Regions from separate parts of the Homo sapiens genome. Here all the other regions are linked to region 2. The links come from fine-mapping of genetic effects on gene expression. A gene starts in region 2. Each other region holds a variant in brackets. All regions are shown on one strand. Distances are between the middles of the regions.

What was found. PIP is the estimated chance that this variant, and not a neighbour inherited with it, causes the effect.
Region 1: its variant is fine-mapped to the expression of TMEM65 in fibroblasts (GTEx, PIP above 0.99).
Region 3: its variant is fine-mapped to the expression of TMEM65 in monocytes after LPS (Quach 2016, PIP 0.95).
Region 4: its variant is fine-mapped to the expression of TMEM65 in whole blood (TOPMed, PIP above 0.99).

Annotation. Positions count from the first base shown.
Region 1 is chr8:124,179,487-124,184,640 of GRCh38, reverse strand. No RefSeq gene overlaps it. Among named protein-coding and RNA genes, the nearest start is that of FER1L6-AS2, 11 kb to the right of the region's middle. The variant C/G (reference allele first, on the strand shown) is at 2,836.
Region 2 is chr8:124,370,254-124,375,407 of GRCh38, reverse strand. TMEM65 (transmembrane protein 65) reads left to right here and starts at 2,707. Exons shown (of 7, transcript NM_194291.3): 1 at 2,707-3,554. The coding sequence starts at 3,251. RefSeq lists enhancers at 2,145-2,334, 2,546-2,840 and silencers at 2,565-2,794, 2,915-3,184, 3,315-3,444, 3,495-3,624, 3,635-3,684.
Region 3 is chr8:124,278,742-124,283,895 of GRCh38, reverse strand. No RefSeq gene overlaps it. Among named protein-coding and RNA genes, the nearest start is that of TMEM65, 91 kb to the left of the region's middle. The variant A/G (reference allele first, on the strand shown) is at 1,904.
Region 4 is chr8:124,327,016-124,332,169 of GRCh38, reverse strand. It overlaps TMEM65 (transmembrane protein 65), which reads left to right. Exons shown (of 7, transcript NM_194291.3): 2 at 1,378-1,422; 3 at 4,749-4,816. Among named protein-coding and RNA genes, the nearest start is that of TMEM65, 43 kb to the left of the region's middle. The variant TGTC/C (reference allele first, on the strand shown) is at 3,057.

The DNA of each region.
Region 1 (5,154 bases), 190 kb after region 2:
TCTGAATGTTCAATAAATATGCATTGATTGAATAAATAAGTAATGGCTTTTTTTCTTACTCCATCTGGGGAATTTTTAATCCCTGCAGGAAGCCTCCTTATAGGTCTGAAAGGACAAGTGAAGAAATCTAGAACTCGAAGAGCTATAGAGAGGGTCACCCAACAGGAGCCAAGGCCTTGGGTGGAGGAATGCAATCAACTTTAGGCAACCCTGTGGGGCCATGCTTTAGGGAATAAACACCCAACCTCATTCTTCTTCCACCTGCTAATCTCCTCTTGATGCCTCTCCCTGGCCAAACACAACCCGAAGCCAGAGGGCAAAGCAGCCTGCTAATGTAGTCCATCTGGGTCAGCTTCCTGGGGGCACAGAGCAGGTGGGAGAAGTAGCCAACAGATCTGAGGAGGAAACAAATTATCCAGTATACCCTTGTATCTTTAGCACCAAGGCATGGTGTTATCAGTGAACTGATTAATTCATTAATTTGCCTGATAATTCTTGAGCTTATGTGTTACCTCTTAGAAGCATTCCCTGATGTGCCCAGCCAGAGCTTTTCTCTCTTTGCTCATTACCCCTTTTTATTTTTTATTTTTCTATTTTTTTTTGAGACAGAGTTTCACTCTGTCACCCAGGCTGGAGTGCAGTGGTGCCATTTCAGCTCACTGCAACCTCTGCCTCCTGGGTTCAAGTGATTCTCCTGCCTCAGCCTCCCGAGTAGCTGGGACTACAGGCATGCGCCACCACGCCCAGCTCATTATTATTATTATTATTATTTTGTATTTTTAGTAGAGATGGGGTTTCGCCATGTTGGCCAGGCTGGTCTCAGACTCCTGACCTCAGGTAATCCGCCCACCTCGGTCTCCCAAAATGCTTGGATTATAGGCGTTAGCCACCACACCTGGCCTCATTTCCCCTTTTAAACACTTCCTGAGAGTTACCATAGGCATCTCTCACACATCTGTCTCCTCCCTGAGGCCCCTCTGAGCTCCCTAAAGCAGGGGCTTGTTTGAATTCATCTGAGCACCTCCAAAACTGAGCACAGGAGGCTGACTCAGAGCAGTGTTTAGAATGTGCTCTGAAAGTGAACAGCCATGTGGATGATTCATTGAATTGAGCTGATGCAAAAGACCTTGCCTGAGATGGTCCAGTTGTCAGCCCATAGAAGGGGGGTGGTGGAGCATGTTCTTTGCACAGTGGCTGCGTAGGTGTTAGGGCCTTATGCGAGACTGCAGGGGGACTGTGGGATTGAGGGATTGTGGCTGACTATGGCAGACAATTGAAGTATGACCCAGTCCTGGAGCCCCTTGCTGAGAGTTAGCAGACCACCGTTGTAGTTCTAGCTGCTACATGTGAGAGATAGTCCATCTTGGTAGTTAACAGGATGAGTATTGGAGTCAGGCTACCTGGTCTCAAATCCTGGCTGTGTGACCTCAGGCAAAATCCTTAACCCATCTACAAAATGGGGATGATAAGTTAACCTGGTAAAATTATTATAAGGACTAAGAGAGTTAATTCACATAAGGTTCTAGGGACAGCATTTAGCCTTTACTTGTAGATATATTCATTTACTTACTATAACTTCCAATTTACAGATGGGAAAGCCGAGGCACAGAGAGGTTAAATAAATCATCCATGTTCACACAGCCACTAAGTGGTAGGGCCAGAATTTAAGCACACACCATTTGGCCCTTAGTGACCTTCCTGAACCATTGCACCATTTGGCTTTGCTCCATGTGGGCAAGTCCTTAAAGAATATTATTATAGGACCTGGGAGCTGGAAGAAAGGAGAAGCTCAAAATGGAAAGTTCTATAATAATAAGTATAAGGATAATGGTGTTTTATAGATCAGCAAGATCTGATGGCAAGAACAAATTTCAATTCCCATTTTTCTAAGTGTCTTCTCCTTAAACAAGATAATGCAGATAAATCCATAATAATTAGCTCACTTTCCTTAGACTGGGTCCTGGAAATAAATAAACTAATGAAAAGGCCTTCATCTCTGATGTTACAACCTTGGGCAATGGACCGGTGAGGGTCAGGCACTAATTTTGATGTACAGGATGCGGTGGGAGGAAGAACTGTCTAAGACTTTGCTACCCAAATTCTGCTCCTTAGACCAGCAGTGAAGACTCACCTGGGAGCTTGTTGGAAATGCAGAATCGCTTTCCTCAACCCAGACCTATTGAATCTGAATCTGTATTCAACGTTGAAACAATTTTTAACAAAGCAATTCATATGCACATTAAAATTTGAAACACTATTACTGATGCTTGAGTCCTACATATCCCCACCCCACCCTCTCCCCCCAAGTCAGAAATTCTTAAGTAATTGGCCTGGGCATTAAGATTTTTCAAAACTCCCCATCTTCCAACATGGGGATTCCAAAATGCAGCAAAGTTTGAGAACCGCTGTTCTAAGGAGATGAGCCCTAGAGAAGGGAGCAGCTATAGCTGGCATACTGTCCTCCTGTTGAGACAGACTTCAGACTCTACCCAAGTGCTCTGATTTTAATTGCAGCTGCTCAGGACAGCCTAGTCCTAGTCCAGCAGGAGCCACAAAGTGCCTTCTGCCACTAGCCACAGCCATTTTACAAAATGCCTGGGCCACAAAGCTGCTTTGCCGTGAACCCTGGGCAGAAATTAAGAGTGGAAGGATGAGTATTATAACTTCCTTCTACTACTTCTATTATTCATTATGCCCAGTCAATGGGTCTAATTTTTATTTTTAAAAGCTTCCTTCCTATTGAGGAATTTGGCTGATTCATGGAGATATGTTTGGCAGCATTGAGATAAGTTTTGGGCTGGAATTTAGGAAACCACGAATTCTTCCAGAAAAGGT[C/G]AGAGGAAAAGTTACTTTCTGTTGTGAAATTAAATAATTCAAACCTAAAGCTGGCGGAACTTTAAATTATGTTGAGCCTTGAGAGCAATGCGGCCATGTGACCTGAGTCATATAGCATGCAGCTGCAACTTCTGGTTTTTCCTGTAAATGATTCGGAAGGACCGAATGGTGCCAGAGTTAAGACCTTTCCAGGCCATTACCCCTCCTTATGGAATGTTAAAGGAACCTTCCTTGGCATGCAACAAGCTGTAACCAATCAAATCACTGTAACATGTACTGACCTTGCATGGAAAATGTTGTAACCCTATTACACTTCTCTGTCTCTGCCTTATAAGTGAAACCTTAACTTCTCCACTTTGGAGCACTGACCCCATTCCTTTGGAGTCTATGTTTCCCAAGTGGCTATCCTCAAGCTTTGTGCTGAAATAAACTCAATACTTCATCATATTTTCTGAATTTCATTATTTGAGGGTGACACTTCAATAACACATTAGTGGCGAAAATTTTCTTCACTTCTTTTTTTTGAGGTAGGTTTGATTATGAATTGAACATGGAAATTGGACCTAAGAGAGAGAGAGAGACAGGCCTCACTGAGTGGAGTTAAAGAGCATATAAGTCTACAAAGCCGAGAGATTCAGGGACCAGCCACATATTTGCCACTGAATACATCTGAAAACAGCCAACCTACGTGCTTACTCTGTGCTAACCTTCATTCTAAGGGCTGTGCAAGGATGACTTAATCCTCATAATAGCCCTATAATGTGGAAACTGTTGTCATACCCACTTTACAGAGATTATCATCAAGGCTTAGAAGAGTTACGTGACTTGCTCAGGGTTGCTCGGCTTGTAACTGCTGGAGCTGGCCTTCCAAATCAGGCCTCCCAACGGACTCCCAAGCCCGCTGCCTCTGATATACCACACTTTCTACTGAGAAGTAGCATGCTGGAATTCTAAGAAGGTGTCATTTTAGTTCTGAAACAACGGAGGAAGAATTTTACAAAGAGGCCAGATGGAAAGAGAGTTGGATAAAGGAATAATATGAAAGCACTCTTCAGTCTGGGCAACATTTGGAAGAGGTTACACTGCAACTTAATTTAGGCGAGTCTTTTTCTGGGGACAAGGAAATGTCCTTGTGGTCAACTCAGTAGAATTTCATTTTAACAGAGCCAGTGGATTCTCAGGTTTCTGAGAACAAGCACGCCACTGCTTTTTGTCATTAGCATGTAACTGCTGTTCAAGTCAAACTGGTATTTAGTGACTATGAAGTAGCAAAGGAAATCTGAGACGAAAATGCAAACAAATCTGCTTGCATGCTGCGGTCACCGTCTTTTGCAAGTTTATTCAACCAGTGTTCATTGAGTGGGTGCCTTGTGCCACATCCTGTGCTTCACAGATTACAGTAGCCCACTTATCCTTGAGGAGTGGGCATAGTACCCCAGTCTAGAGATGGGAGCACTGAGGTTCAATGAAGATCTGAAATAGGTCTCAGGCTGACTCCAGAGCTTGTCCTCTTTACTGTATATCCTCTTGACGTTATAGTCCAAGGGATCTCCCTTTATAGTCCAAAGGAATCTTTCTTGGCATGTAACAAGCACAATCTTAAACTTCTTAAGCTTCAGATGTACCTGGGGTGTTGATTAACAGGCAGATTCCTGGGCCCTACTTCAAGTGAATCTGATTCTAGAAGTCTGGAGTTGGAGCCCCAGAAACTGCATGTTCAATCCTAACCCCCAATTTAGTGGTCTGAAGACTGAACTTAGTGAGTGCTATGTCAGTACTTCTCCCAGCCCCAGTCCCTGCCATAAGAAATTCACAGCTCAATCAGAGGAGGCAGACACACAATGGATTATTACAACACAAACGTGTAATCTCTAAAAAGAGGATAGGTCCTAGGATGTTCAGGCATCTGTTGTCCAGGTAGAAAGAAACAGCTGTTGGTGGGAGCAAGGCATGGCACGAAGGGGAGCAGAGCTACAGCCCTTTCCCCAGAACGCCTGTGACAGCAGACACTCCCTTTATAAACTCAGGCTTCATGCCCTTGCAGCTAGCACCACCCCACCCAAACACCACACACACACACACACACACACACACACACACACACACACACACACACAGACACACACACAGACACACACACACACACACACACACACTCTGCACCTCTCATTAATAATCAAGTCCCGTTGGCCAGAGCTTCCAAACGCTCTGAAATCTATGCATTTTTCTCGTCCTCACTGGTATTACTGTAGTGCAATCCACCACCACTCCCCTCTACCATGCAATAGCCTTCTAAAGGCACCCATCCTTGCTCCCCTC
Region 2 (5,154 bases):
CACCATGCTGGAGTGGCTGTGTGAAAGTGCTCTGGTTCTCAGCCCCATTTGAGCTACCAGTCAGCCATGTCAGTGAGCCATCTTAGCTATTCAGCCCAGCTGAACTTTCAAATGACAGCAGTTGTGTTGAAATCTGATTGATACTACATAAACGACTCCAATAAAATAACTGTCCAAGTAAGTTCTTCCCCAATTTCTGAGCCTCAAAATTAAGAGCAAAATAAATTGGCTAATTAAACTACTAAGTTTTGGCATAATGTGTCTACCCAAAGAGCAGCAATAATAACCAGAAGAGTTTACCAACCAACATAAAACAGAGTGAGAAGCAAGGGGAAAGAGATAGGGTAGATTAATAAGCTTAGGATAGGCTGAAGGACCATAGCACCTAAATTCTGTTTTATGCAATGTTCTCATGTCTTATCCCTCTCCACCATCCAGTCTTCTCAGCACATAGTGTGGCTACAAGGACCAGACTGGAGAGTAAGTAAGGTGACTCAACAGACTGAAGGGGCCTGGGCTCAACATATGTCTGTTCTGTTACAGAGCTGAGGGGCAAGTGTGTCTGGTTATAATGGTAGCTGGCATTAGTTGGCTTTGTAGCTGGGGGTTTATCTGCTTTTCTTGGGAAGAGATTACATGAGGCCATAATAGCGTTACAATGGGTGTTACCAGTAGGTATGCAATTTAGGGATGACATGGCTGTAAATCTGAAGATAGTATGATCTGTACCTTATTAATACTTAAAAGTCCACTTTGTCTTTCTGCCTCTATCTAAAGCAGCATTTTCATTTGTTCCATCCTTTTTATCTATGTTCAACCCATATCCATTCATTCTATGTGTAACCTTTCTCATAAGTGACTTGCTTCTACATTTTAGTTTCTCTTGTTTTATAATAGAATTAAATATTCTATAGTAATATAGCAAAAGCATTACAGCAAACCCCAATGAGCAAACATGTATCATATCACGTTTATGATGTCCTCCTATTTATTGACCAAAACAAGTCAAATAGCCAAGCCCACAGTCAATGTAGAGGTGGACCACACAACGGAGCGGATAATAGAAGGTGTAGTTCATTGGGGATCACTACTATAACAATCTAATACTAACACATAGTTAGGAGACGGTTGATCCAGGGATCGAACTTTCCACAGTCTGTCTCTGGAGGCTACACACTAAACTACTATTCTGGAGGTGGTTGGGAATGGGTTCTTACTGAAGAACTTTTTTCAAACCTCACTTCCCAGGTCTGGGGCCTGTGATCCACCCCAGTGAATCAGAATATCTTGGGGGTAGGAAATTGTGGGGGGGATGGGGTGGTACTCCCATGAGCCTGAGACTGAAATAGCTCTGCAGAGGATTCCAGTGCACACTAGGGAATGAAGGGGGTTTCAAAGACAAGGAAGATATACTTTATGCACTCAAAAAGCTTTCATTTCCACAGAGAGCATTCTTAATTGTTGTTATTACATCACAGAGGCATCACCTTGGAATTTAAAAAAGAAGCGATTCCTTTCAATGTTTAAGAGACATCAGTGTTTCTCAAGCTTTCGTGTGTGTTATTACTGGAGGGCTTGTTAAAACCCACATGACTGGGTCCAATGTCTACGTTCTGATTCAGGAGGTGTGAAGTGGGGTCCACTATTTCTCACGTCTAAAAAGCTCTGGGACACACTTTGAGAACCAGAGTTAGAGAAGTAGGAGGCTTTAGTGGTAACAATCCTCCATTATTCAGTTTAATATTCTACTTACATGTAGCACATTTACTACCTACAAGTTTCCGGGCTGAGTGCAGCACTGTTTATGATAAGGATGGGATTTAGATCTTGATTACGCTCCAGCAGATTTATTAAGTGGATTTATTCTCTAAGGGTGCCTAAGCGTCATTAGACAGGTTCAGATAAAGCAGAGATCTCCTCCCTTAGAAGAGATTAGGGACAGCTTAATGAAGTAGGAGACCTTTCACCTGGGCCTTGAAAGATGCCTAGGACCTGGATCAGGGGAAATCGTGGACAATCAAATTATTCTTCCCGCTTTAGCACAGAGACAAAAAAATCACAAGCAACCACTAGGAAAGGTCTATGACATTCTTGCCTCTGCCTCTAGCATTAACAATTTGCATGCCAGCTGCTGGAATCTGAACGGGGAGGACTGTTCTCGTGTCAAGGGCTCAGTCTCAGACCCTCCTTGGGCAGGGGTGGAACTGGCTTCGCTTTCTCTTTGGGGCGCCCAGAGCGACTGCATTAGAGCCGGCCTGCTCGGCCGAAGCGGCGGTGGGCGCTGACTTGGCGAAGGGCGCAGCTGGGGCGCTTCGTTCCGGAGCAGAGCGCCGTGATCCCGTCGGGGCTGGGGTGGCAGCGCAGCTCTCCGCCTGTCCAGAGCGGGGCCGCACGCCGGGGCACCTTTCAGAACAAGCTCCAGATGTGGCCCCAGGTTGGGGGCCGGGTGGCAGCTGTACTACCCTGGCGGGCGAGGGGTCCAGAGCTCGTTTTCCCTATTCCGATCTGTAGGTTTAACGCCAGCACAGGGTGGCGCACCCTACCTCCTTCCACCTTCACGCACCAGCGCGGGAGGGGACGCGTGTGCACGCTCCTCCCCTAGGAGGGAGGGCGGCCCGAGAGCCTGCAGACTGCGCCTGCGCAGCCTCGCTCACACACCTCCCCGCCCCCCCGCACCTCCTTCCCCTTTCGCCCCGCCCCGTTCCCACTTCTGCTGCCGCTAGGGGTAGCGGCGGCGGCGGCGGCTGCGGCTCGGGAGCGCGGCTGCTTTGAGGGCTCGGGAACCTTACAGAGTGGGGACGTGGGGAGGCTAGAGGGTGAGAAAGCTGGCGGGAGAGTAGGGCGGCGCTGGAGGAGGGCGGTGCGTGGCTGACTCATCCTCTGGAAGATCAGACTGACAGAGACACACACTAGCCCGCCCCGCCCGCCCGCGCCGCTCCTCCTCAGCCGGGAGGCGCCCGCCCGCACCGACCGCCCGCCCTCTCCGGGCGCTGTCCGGGCCCGGCCGTCTCAGAGAAAGTTTTTCCCATCGGAGGGGCGGGAGCCGCCGCGGGCCTTTTGGAAAGGAAGTGGGGACGGAACAGGAGGCGAGAGCCGCGCGGGCCCGCGGAGTGCATGGTGCCCGGCGCCTCGGCTGCCTGGCAGGAGGACCTCGGGGCGGGGTCGAGCTGAGCCCAGCTCCTTCTCGCCTCAGCCGCGCCAGAAACCGCCTTGCCGGACGGCCGCGGGGGTCCCAGCTCCTCAGCTCGCCATGTCCCGGCTGCTGCCGCTGCTGAGGAGCCGGACCGCGCGCAGCCTGAGGCCGGGCCCGGCCGCCGCCGCCGCGCCCCGCCCGCCGTCCTGGTGCTGCTGCGGGCGGGGGCTGCTGGCGCTCGCGCCCCCCGGCGGCTTGCCGGGCGGCCCCAGGCGGCTGGGCACGCACCCCAAGAAGGAGCCCATGGAGGCGCTGAACACGGCGCAGGGCGCGCGCGACTTCATCTACAGCCTGCACTCCACGGAGAGGAGCTGCCTGCTCAAAGAGCTGCACCGCTTCGAGTCTATTGCCATTGCCCAAGGTAAGGGGGGCAGGTGGGGGGCGAGCCCGGGGGCCCCGACGCCCTCCTCTTCTCGCCAGCCCACCGGGAGCCCGCTGCGGCCCTGGATCTTGGACCCCCGCCGCCGCCCCCCTTCCGCCCCCCTCGCCTGTCTGGCCCCACGCCTGGGACGGCTGGGGGCGGGGAGACTTTCCGCCGCCCGAGTTTCCCCCAGGCAGGTAGGACGGGCGCGGGTCGTGCCAGGCAGCCGAGGCCAGCGCTAGCTACTTCCTCCCCAGCCTCCGAATCCGGAGCTTCGGCCTAAAATGCCAGTTAACGCTGTTGGGATTGAGTTTTGATTTGCCCCGTGCCTCCCCTCCCCAGCCCTCCTGTCCCTTAGCCCTTGCTGCTTTCTTGCGAGCGTGCACCCGTGCAGGTGGCATGCTGTGCCTGCTCCGAGAAAGTGCTGCAAACCCGCCTGGCAGGAAGAAACTTTTTGAACGGTTATCAAATGAAGACGTATGGGTGGGTAGCCAAAAGAAGGGGTGTAGCTTCGAAAGTCAGGGATGCTCATAGCTGCTTGTTTCCACACATGTCTGATTGCGTTAATTTCAGCAGCCAAAGGAAACATTTTCTCCAGAAATGGAAAGACAGATTCAAGTTAAACTCCAGTTTTGGTTTTTCCCAGAGGTTGAAAGAATGAAATAAATAAGGAGGTATATTTTTTGGAAATCTGTGGCTCTGTAGTAAAAGTCAGACTGATGCTCAAAAGTAATTGGGAATGATGAAAGCAAAACGATTTTTAAACTAGCATGTTAAAATAGGATATTTCTAAAAGGAGTCCAGAATGGGGTAGGGCAGAATTTGAGTCTAGGTGAAAAAGCTAAAAGTTCAGAAAATAAAAAGGATGAAAGGAGCAAACGACTAAAATGGATGTCTTAAAATATTTCTGCCACTTAAATACAGTTATGTAAACAAAACACATTGCTTCAGTTTGTATTACATTCTGATGTGTTTGAAAGTTTTAAAAAAGTTTACTCTCCTCTCTAAACTTGGTAGGTACATAAACATCTCATAGATTCCAAAGTGTAGAGCACATTGATTCGGATCATGCCATTTGATTTGCCAGACTTGAAAGTATATCTTTAGCTGATGTGCAGGAATGGAGGAAAGAATTATCTACCTCATGTAAGCAGGACGTTATCTGTACTACTTCAGAAACTTGTTTTAGTTGTGGCTTTTAATCAGATGTTTTCCCCCTCAGTTCAGGAAATTGTGGACCAATTTATAGTGGATGATTGATTCCAGACATTGTTTACCCACAGTGCTTTTACAGGAAAATGTAACGTCCGATCAATTCCGTTATTCAATGTGTAATCATGATGTTATATGCAATCATAATGAAACACTAGCACATTTGTAATCTATGTGTGCACTCAGTATGCAGTTTAAAAATAGTCAATTCTGAAAATATGCTCCTTGGAAAAATAATATAGTCAGTCATGTACTAGAACATTAACTTTTGAATCTTTCTGCACTGACAAGACTATTTGAACACACATTTTACCTTTTCCAAGTAATTTCTTGGAAATTCTGCATTGTCAACAAGTTACAAGATTGGAGGGCCCTATGAATATAGTTT
Region 3 (5,154 bases), 92 kb after region 2:
CCCCATCCAACTCACACTGAATTCAGCCAATTAGTGATCATCATCAAGATCAGCAGAAACCTTATCCAACTAAGCCCAGTCTGAATATCAGAGAGTGAGCAAATACAAAGGTTGTTGTTTTAAGCCATTAAATGTTGGGATGGTTTGTTACACAGTAATAGATAAGTGAAATAGACCCAATTAAAATAGTTGATCCATAAGCATATAACAAAACTCATTATAACAATATCTCAAAAGCATAAGAAGAAAATTCTTTATGGAAAATAAACCTTTGGTTTCACTGAAGTTAATTGACTAAATTAACTCAACCACAATTTGAGCATAAATCACAATTGAAAAGACTGACTCGGCAGAGTAAATGGAAAAGGCTCAAAGAGCCGACTATATTTAGCATCTACTTGGGTTTGGTGTGGGATGCAAGTGAGTTTTAAAATCAGGAAAAGGAAAAAACCATCAAGTCAGAGTAGAGCCTAGAGATTTGTTTATGCTTTCTCATGCCAGAAACTTGAGATCGCTTTCCTTCTTTGAGGAAGAAAAGTATGATTTGTAATTTTGCACAGCTGAGAAGAAATGTTTCCGCTATCCCTCCAAACCTCACTCCCTGCCTTCCAGCCACATACAGAACCAATGCAGCTCCTCAAATGAGCCTCTCTGCTTTGTTCATGTTATTCTTCCTGCTTGTGTTCTGTTTCCCCATCCATCCATTAACTGCTAAACTTCACCCACTTCACCCACTTGGAAAATGAGGTGAAGCTTCCACTTGGGGAAAATCTTTCTGACAACTGTCCCTCTGTGCCCTCAAGTAGGCTAATCACCCCTGCCTTGGGACACCACTGTACTTTGTTTTCACCTGTATTCTTTGGCTGTACAATTATTAGGATGGTTTGTTTGCTTGTCCTTTACTCCTCCTTGACCATAAATTTCTACTAGAGACAGGAAGAAATCCTACTGAGATAAGTATACGTGGCATTTATTACATGCTTATAATGTGGCCTAACATCAGTGGTTTTCAAAGTTTTGGTTGTATCAAGGGTGCCTATTAAAAATGCGTATTTTTAGCTGGGTGTGGGGACTCACGCCTGTCATCCCAGCACTTTGGGAGGCCAAGGGGGGCGGATCACCTGAGGTCAGGAGTTCGAGATCATCCTGGCCAACCAGGTGAAACCCTATCTCCACCAAAAATACAAAAATTAGCCAGGCGTGGTGGTGGGCACCTGTAATCCCAGCTACTTGGGAGACTGAGGCAGGAGAATGGCTTGAACCTGGGAGGTGGAGGTTGCAGTGAGCTGAGATTGCGCCATTGCAGTCCAGCCTGGGCGACAGAGTGAGTCTCCGTCTCAAAAAAAAAAAAAAAAAAAAAAAGCATATTTTCAACAACCAGCCCCAGATAGCCTCATTCATTTGGGGCTGGGAGATCTGCATTTTTAACAGGCACCTAGATACAATAATTGGTCAGGCAACTCTATCTTACAAAATATGGGCCTCAGGACCTCCTGTCTTCTCTTGCCTCTCTCTGGCTGCCTAACCTGGGCTATTTCCCTACAGTAAAGGAAAAACCAAGGAAGATAACTGGGTGAAACTCAAATCAGGTAAACACACTTTTAAAGTTCTGACCTGGAAGTTGAAGGTGCAGGCTAAAATAATAATTATTCATCAATGGTATTTATTTCCATTTTTCCTGACTTCCTTTTCCACCACTAGTCAAGAACCGGCCATATTTAAAATTATGCTGGTTGACATTTTCTCAAGGCACCCTTTGAATAACCCTTCAAAGCCAGAAAAATTTATGTATTTGGAAATTAAATTGTGATGAGCTTGTCTGTCAGCTGCATGATGTTTCCCCACTCATTCTGTTCTGGGTGATAAATCCATAATCACTGAAGTCAAGAGCTGTTCATTACAT[A/G]TATTCATATAACCTGGTCCGAGGCCCAGACTATCTGAATTGGCAGTAGCAATACCAGCTACTATTTATTTACCTCTTGCTTTGTGCTGTGGCTGGGATCAGTGTTTTACATCATTTTGTTCTTTAATCCGTATCAACACCTTTGAGATAGGTTTTAGAGGTAAGAAAGGTGGGGCTCAGAGAAATTTAAAACAACTCATCCAAAGGGCAAGATGAGGTAGGATGAAAAGATATGTCTGTTTCCCTCAGCACCGGAATTCCGTACTACACCGTGGGCCAGCTCCTTAGAGCCTGCCTGGGCCCGTGGCTAGGTGGTATCAGGGCAGAACTTAAGACCCACGATTCCTGGCCCCCAGCATAATTTTTTTTTATGACCTCACACATGGGGCAAAAGGAAAGCCGAAAACATTAATAATTAATTCTGGTAAAAAGAGAGGGTGGTGATATGGTTTGGCTGTGTCCCCTCCCAAATCTCATCTTGAATTGTAGTTTCCATAATCCCCACATGTCCTGGGAGGGACCAGGAGGAGAAAACTGAATCATGGGGCAGTTTCCCCCATTTTGCCGTCCTGTTCTCGTGATAGTGAGCGAGTTCTCACAAGAGCTGATGGTTTTTATAAGGGGCATTCCCTGCCCAGTGCCCCCGCCCCACCACCTTCGCTCTGCGTTATTTTCCTGCCATCATGTGAAGAAGGACATATTTACTTCCCCTTCTGCCATGACTGTAAGTTTCCTGAGGCTTGCCCAGACATGCGGAACTGTGAATCAATTAAACATCTTTCCTTTATAAATTACCCAGTCTCGAGCAGTTCTTTATTGCATTGTGAGAATGGACTAATACAGGTGGGTTGGGATTTTCCTTTACTTGTTCGGATCATTGGGAAATTTTTGATTACCAAAAGGCTAAATTATGATGTCATATGTGGCCTTGGAACAGATTATCTGGGCCTTGCCCTGTTTCCACTAACTGCTGTTTCTCTAACTTTGTGGAAAATGCTAAGACAGTTACCAATTCTTCTTGGTCCATTTTGAAGATTTGCTAAACCTCTAAAAGCCTTGTGAGACCCCTTCAGCCACTGCGGAGCTTTTTAATGGAGAACAGGAAAGGATCGTAACTAGGCCACAGGGGGGTATTTTAGTCCGAGAGCAGGCTGGTTTTATGAAAGTCCAGGCTCCCAGCAGCTTTTGTGAATATTAACGTATAAACCAGGGCAGAAAGTGGCGTCAGCAGTGCCCTGAGCAGGAAAGACTGTGGCTTTATGTAGCAGAGGCATGTCCAGGTCAGCAGCAGGGACCTGAATTCCAGGACTCTCAGCTCTGCCTGGAACTTGTGAGATCTTGGGTCAAGCTCTCAATCCGTGTGGGCCTGGTTTTTTGTTTTAAATTCTTCTAATACTACCTCTCCTGTTGGTGAACGAGGGAAATGGACATGAATGTCTGTGAAAGAACTTATCATAGGTAAGCTGTTCTGAGTGGCGCTCCATCAGCCATCTTTACTGGCTGTTTGTGGTTTTCCAACAAAACATCATAGCTTATGTGGTTAAGCAGTGTCGTGTTCACAGCAGGAATGCAACCAGCATTTGGTGGAATTGTACTGCTGAATATTTATAACTGAAAACCTCAAAGAAGAGTCCACCTCACAGATGTCACCCTTATTGCTTGCATTCCAACTATTTAAGAGCTAACCCGTTGTGCTAGTTTGAGATGACTGTTGCTTAAAGTGTGGGGTGCATTTCACTGTGATAAGCAGGATGCTTTGAAATGTCATGTAGACAAACATTTTTATTAATAATTAGGTATTTTTCACTGTGCATTTAAACAAGGTTCATTTGGAAAAGTAAATAAAAATGGACTCAACTAAAGTGTATGAAGCAAGTATTAATACAGGTGTTAGAAGGATATGACAAAATCATGCAGGTGATACATCAATGAGTATAGATTAGGATATACTCCTAGAATATAAGTCCATAACTTGTTAAGCAAAACTCATGGGGCCAGATGAGTTTCATAATTCAGAATATCTCATGCAGTATTTGACACCCCCAGAGGTAACTGAGACAACATTCTCAAGTCAAACACGTTATTATTTCTGCAGTAAAACTGATGAATATTCATCATAAGTGGGATAAAGTCTATAAATGGACTCATCAATTCAGTACAAGTTTTGCAGCCAAATGAATTACAAAAAAATATTGTTTCTCAGATGCTTTTGCATTTTGGAATTGTAGATAAGAGAGATTTTGTTGTCGTTGTTTTGGTTTTTGAGACAAGGTCTGGCTCTATCACCCAGGCTGGAGTACAGTGGTGCCATCTTGGCTCACAGCAACCTCCGCCTCCTGGGCTCAAGCGATCCTCCCACCTCAGCCTCCCAAGCAGCTGGGACTACAGGTGTGCCCCACCACACCCGGCTAATTTTTGTATTTTTTGTAGAACAGGTTTTCACCATGTTGCCTAGGCTGATCTCAAACTTGAGATCTCAAGTGATCCACCCACCTTGACTTCCCAAGGTGCTAGGATTACAGGTGTGAGCCACTGCACCTGGCCAGATAACAGATTTTTAACCTGTAGTAAAATAGGCCAAGAGGAAAAACAAGCAAATTCAAGAACCTTAGGCCTGAGCCATACTGTATAGTATGGCTATACCCCCAAACATTCTCCCTCTCATCATCTGATTTGTGAGGTAGGTCCTCCATATTACAGATGAGGAATTTGAGGCTTACAGAGGGTAGGTGACTTAGCCAAGATCACACAGCTGGTAACCAACAGGGCCAGAATTAGGATCCAAGATTAGAATCCAAGTCCTGTGCCTCCAGATATTTGATCTTTTTATACTGTAATCCATACATCATATAAGGCCTGAAGAGGCAGAGGCTGAATTCTTGAACATGTTCCCTGAGTGCAGATATGCTTTCCCCCAGGAAGGTGTCTTACCTGACTCTGTCATTTCCACCGAGGGGGGCTCTGGAGGGGAAGGATGGGAGTGGAAGATATAACCTTGGCCTTTTAATGTTGAGCTACGGATGTATCCAAGGTGCTTGGATCAATCTCTTCAGACAGTGCATGAAACCCAACTGAAATGCTTGTGACAGTCCAGTGGTATTTCAGGGAACCATTGCCTGTTTCTTCCAGAAATTCTAATAAGAATGGACATTTATTGAGCACCTGCTATATGCCAGACATTCCTTCCTCTAACAGTTTAGGGGTGTTCTTACCATTTCCCTCCCCCAGATAGAGAAATGGGAGTTCAGAGA
Region 4 (5,154 bases), 43 kb after region 2:
TGGATGCTTTCAAAGGAGATTTTGAGTTAATGATGCTAATCAAAAATAAGAATATATTTTAATCAGATGTGAAATTCTGTAAGATTAGTATATATATCTTCATTTCTTAATTCTTCTAAAAAAGGAAAAATAAAGCTTAAGTTTGCTTCTTAGAACTTTCTAAATACTATGAAAGTTAATTAAACTCGAGGTTTTAGTGTATTTCTTACTGTAAAGCCATTATGGAACTTGGAAAATACCAGTCACTAATGTGGACCATATTTCCTTTTATGTAGGTTATCAATGGAGATTTGACTTTTACTTTTTTATACTAAATTCCTTAGTTCTTTTGTTGTTATAAAATATAAATAAATATTTTTGAAGATGTACATCTAGTTTGTAATGCGTTTCTTTGGATAATCTGGTTGTACTAAATCTTTAGAGTGATCCACTCTATGGGTTCTTCTCTATATGATAACAATTAATTCTGTCCAGTTGGTTGATCATAAAGAAGGTAGAATTTTCTACCTTTTTACCTTAAACAAATGGTGAGATGCTTATTGTTATAAGACCAGGTAGGCTGCTGCCTGTAATAATTGTTAATTTTTAGGTATAATGTTGACACGTAAAGATACTCTCTGGCTTATACTTGGGAAAACTTTGTTACTTGTGATTCTGAACAACACCCTACTTTTAAAAGTTGTTTTAATGTATGGAATACCCTATTATCCAGTGTATAGGTTCCAAAAGTTAAAATATTCAGTTATATTATATATCAATATAATATATCTTATATATTAATTAATATATATCAATATTATATAATACTATTAATATATTATAAAAGTTAAAATATTCAGTTATATCAACAGAGATTAAGGAACAAAATACAATTCAGTGAAGTCATTGTTTTCATACATTGCTTTAAAAATATTTTCTTCATTTTAAAGATATCTAGATCTATTTGAATATTCATGTTTTCCACTATCAATGATGCTTGTTTGTGTATTTCTTAAGTCATCTAGGGTTGCCATCTGAAAGAAGAGTACCTTTATTTCTAAAGTGTTTTTCTAGTGTAATTAATGCAAACAGACTCATTATCTAGATGTAAGGACTTTAAAGAAATCTGAAAAACAAAAAACAAATGAACTTACCCAGGGCTAGAGTCCATGTTAAGCTTGTAACTAAGCTCAGTTTCATTTGCTGGCCTTCTGATTTAATCCATACTGATTAATATTTTCTGTATGGACAAATGTGGTCCCTTAACCTAAAGATAATTTATGAATAAACTCTGATATTCTCCCACGTTGTAAATCTTCTGGTATTTTCTTCATTGTAATAAAAAATATCACGCTGTAGTAACTAATTCTTGCCCCACATCCTTTTTCTCCCCTTTAGAAAAATTGGAAGCTCCACCACCCACCCCAGGACAGCTGAGATATGGTAATGGTTCTATAATTGTTAAATATATGTTCATCTGTCTTTTGGCCTTGAAATAACTGTATCATTCATTGATAGCACAGAAGAGTCAGTAAATTAAATCTTTCCAGATAGAGTGGATTATCCTGTTCATTATATGAAGCACAAAGTTTATAAACTTGGCTAAGGATGTAACACAATATTGTAAAATATCTAATATTGTTAAAAATATCTAATATTATTAAAATATTGTTGCCATTTAGAAATAGAATTATTTTTATGATAGAAGTTTTCTTAATTTCTAGGAAAAAGGATGTATTTACTTTAGTTTGAATTTAAGTTGGGTAAATGCAGAACTAGAATTTCTAGGCCCAAGGCGAGATACAACTGTTCTCTGGTAGAGAAAATGTTTCCGGCTGGCTGTTTGTAAGAATGAAAAGAATAAAGTTTATTTAAAACTACGTGAAGAAGGACCTTATTACAATGCTGCTAGTGTTCTTTCTTTTCTCTATTATGATAGGAATAAATATTCAAGAATATACCAAAATAATGTAAAACAAGTTGGGATGTTATTATAAAGATGGAAGAAGTGAATTATTTAACAGTATAGTGAATTAGAGTAGGTTGTAAATTAAAGCTAAATATGAAACGTGATTTGCTAACAACTGGCAAGTTATAGAATAGTGTTTCTGAGAGTAAATTGAAGAAGCCACAAATTAGTAGGAGATCATTATATACTAGAGAGCAAATTTATATAATTTTTAAAAAAACCTAATGGCCAGTTATTTTTTCTCTGACAGGTAGAATGTAATTTATATTAGAGATTAGTAACTTTCCTCAAATACCAAAACAATTTAAAAATTCTTTAACACTTGTGTTCCCAAGTAATTTATGATTCTCCCACCTTAGATTCATACAATCTATAGTTCATAATACTGTATACTATTATCATTTTTTGTAGGTGGTATTGAAATTTACTGTTTGTATGGCTGTGTTATCATACCTAAACCCCTTTAGGGCTGGGAACCAAGTCTTATTTATCTTTGTATCTCAGGTGCCCAGTGGAGTGCTCTGTACATGTTTATTTAACTTTTTGAAAAACTATATTTTTTCCTTTTAGTTAAAATAAATTATAATTTTTAGGACATATTTATATAGGTATAAACACTAAAAACATACATCGTATAGTTCAAAGTGATTGTTTGTAACAGAGTGCCTTGGTTTTACTGACCAAGTTTTTACTAAGATAGCAATTAGTGTAATCTTAACTTAATGGGCTTATCACCTAATTTTAAGATATTTGTAACTGGCCAGTTTTAGAGATGCTATTAAAAGAATCCCAAAATGCTAATTAATCCTAACCAGTTTCATCATTATTTTTCAGTACTTAAGTAGCTTTCTCTTCACTGTAAATGTTTTATTTAGTGATTTTTTAGAATTTCATTATACTCTTCTAACCTGTTAAATTTGTAATGTGTATTGGTTCTGGAAGCTGCTTTTTATAAAATTTTGAGTGTTCAGTAAATAACCAGATTTAGGCAATAAGTGAAAAAACTAAGGCTAGACTCTTTAATTGAAAAAAAATCCCATTTTATTAATGTTTTACTTGATTTTTACAACCTTTAATAACAAATAATATTCTTTGTAATTAAAAATGT[TGTC/C]CTTGATCTTGGACATTTTTACTTAAAACAAGACGAAATTTTAAATGACCTATTTTATACCTATTATGTACTGGTTTATATAATATTGTATAGCTATAATAATATTGAATATAATAGTATTCTTATACTGTATATAGTATTGTCCCGTGGTCTTAGTCATTTATAGTGGTTGTGGGTAGAAGTGCTTTTTTTTGAGTGCTTATTAGCCTTTCCTGCTAGGTGCAGAGCTCAATATAGTAATATCGAATTTTTATAACTTCTGGATTATATTTCAATTATACTTTCTGTGGAGATAACTGCATTAAAAGAAAAAAAGACTCTAAAAATTAATAGACACATATAACCAGTTGGTTTAAGGGATTATTTTTTTGGACGTAGTACAAAACTCAGCATTTTAATGTTTGTTGAGAAAAGTCCTCAGTTGAACGGATGTTCACTATACCTTGGCAATTTTATAGATTAATTAGAATAAAGTCTTTTACCTATTCCCAGCTTTTAATCTATTTCACAGTCTGCCTTCAATTCTCCCAATCTGGAATTCTCTTCCTTTCCAGGTTAGTGGTCTTCAACTTAATGAAATAATATTTTTTGAGCATCTACCATGCCCTCAATATTCTGCTGAAGATGTAAATATGAAAGAAATGAGAATAAATGTATAAAAAATATGTAGGTATTAGTTCTTCCTAGTTACAATTTTTTTTTTTTTTTAAGATGGAGTCTTGCTCTGTTGCCAGGCTAGAGTTCAGTGGTGCAATCTTAGCTCACTGCAACCTCTGCTGCCTGGGTTCAAGTGATTCTCCTGCCTCAGCCTCCCAAGTAGCTGGGACTACAGGCACGCACCACCACACCCAGCTAATTTTTGTATTTTTAGTAGTGATGGGGTTTCACCATATTGGCCAGGATGGTCTCGATCTCTTGACCTCATGATCCGCCCGCCTCAGCCTCCCAAAGTGCTAGGATTACAGGCGTGACCTAGTTACACTTCTAATATCTCAGATCATTGAATTTATATACCCAATAGATGAAGTAAGGTGTGTTTTTGGTAGCAAGAGGTGAAGTGATAGTTTGATTTAAATCAAATATTGATTGTTTATAGTTTGCAATAGCATTTGGGAATATTGATGAATTTTGAGGGGGGAAAAAGACTGCACATAGATGAGGTAATATAGATGAGATAATCACCTTTTTCTAACATTTCTTTAAAAAAATTAGTTAGTAAAAGCACCCAAATAACTTTTCTGACATTTGATTTAGGACATTTTCATTATTTCTAATACAGAAATCGATTTTATAATATCAGACTTTAGTCATAATAGAAAAAGAGATTAATGTCAGTAGCAATCAGGTAAAATGTGGTACTCATATATGTTTACTAATTTGTTCTGTTAATTGTATGTATATATTTGTGTGTGTGTGTGTGTGTGTGTGTGTGTGTGTGTTACCAGTAAGAAAACACAAAAGTCTAACACAGTTATTTTTACATGTTTTATACTTTTTCTGGTTTGTTTTGTTTTTTCCCAATATAGTTTCTACTTATAGCAGTAGCAGCATCTATTGGCTCTGGAAAATGAGAATCAAATTCTAGAGATTATCAAGTCTGTTTAGGATACTTTGATCATATCATCTGTTTTTGTCATTCTAAGTTATAGAAATCTTAAAATATATTTTTCTGTTTTTGATGTTTTTCAGTATTCATCCACAATGCGATACCTTTCATAGGGTTTGGCTTTTTGGATAATGCAATTATGATTGTTGCTGTAAGTTCTTTCTCTCACTGCTTCTATTTTGAGTTCATAAATTAATGTGGTCTACATTTTCCTAATAATTTTTCTATTGTGATTATAAAGTTTTAATATCATAATGAACAAGGATATTTTTTACTATATCTCAGACTATAGCTCAATTTTAATTAAGCTATATTTAATATTTATTAATCATTAAGACTTTAGGTAAAGCATTTAGACAAATAGACTTTTGGTAGAGCATTCAGACAGAACATTAAAGGCCTATATTGTCCTATTCTAATTTCAACATTCTTAATAAAGAAAAATAATATGTAAAATGTTCTGATGTTCTTTAATGGTGTTGGCAATTA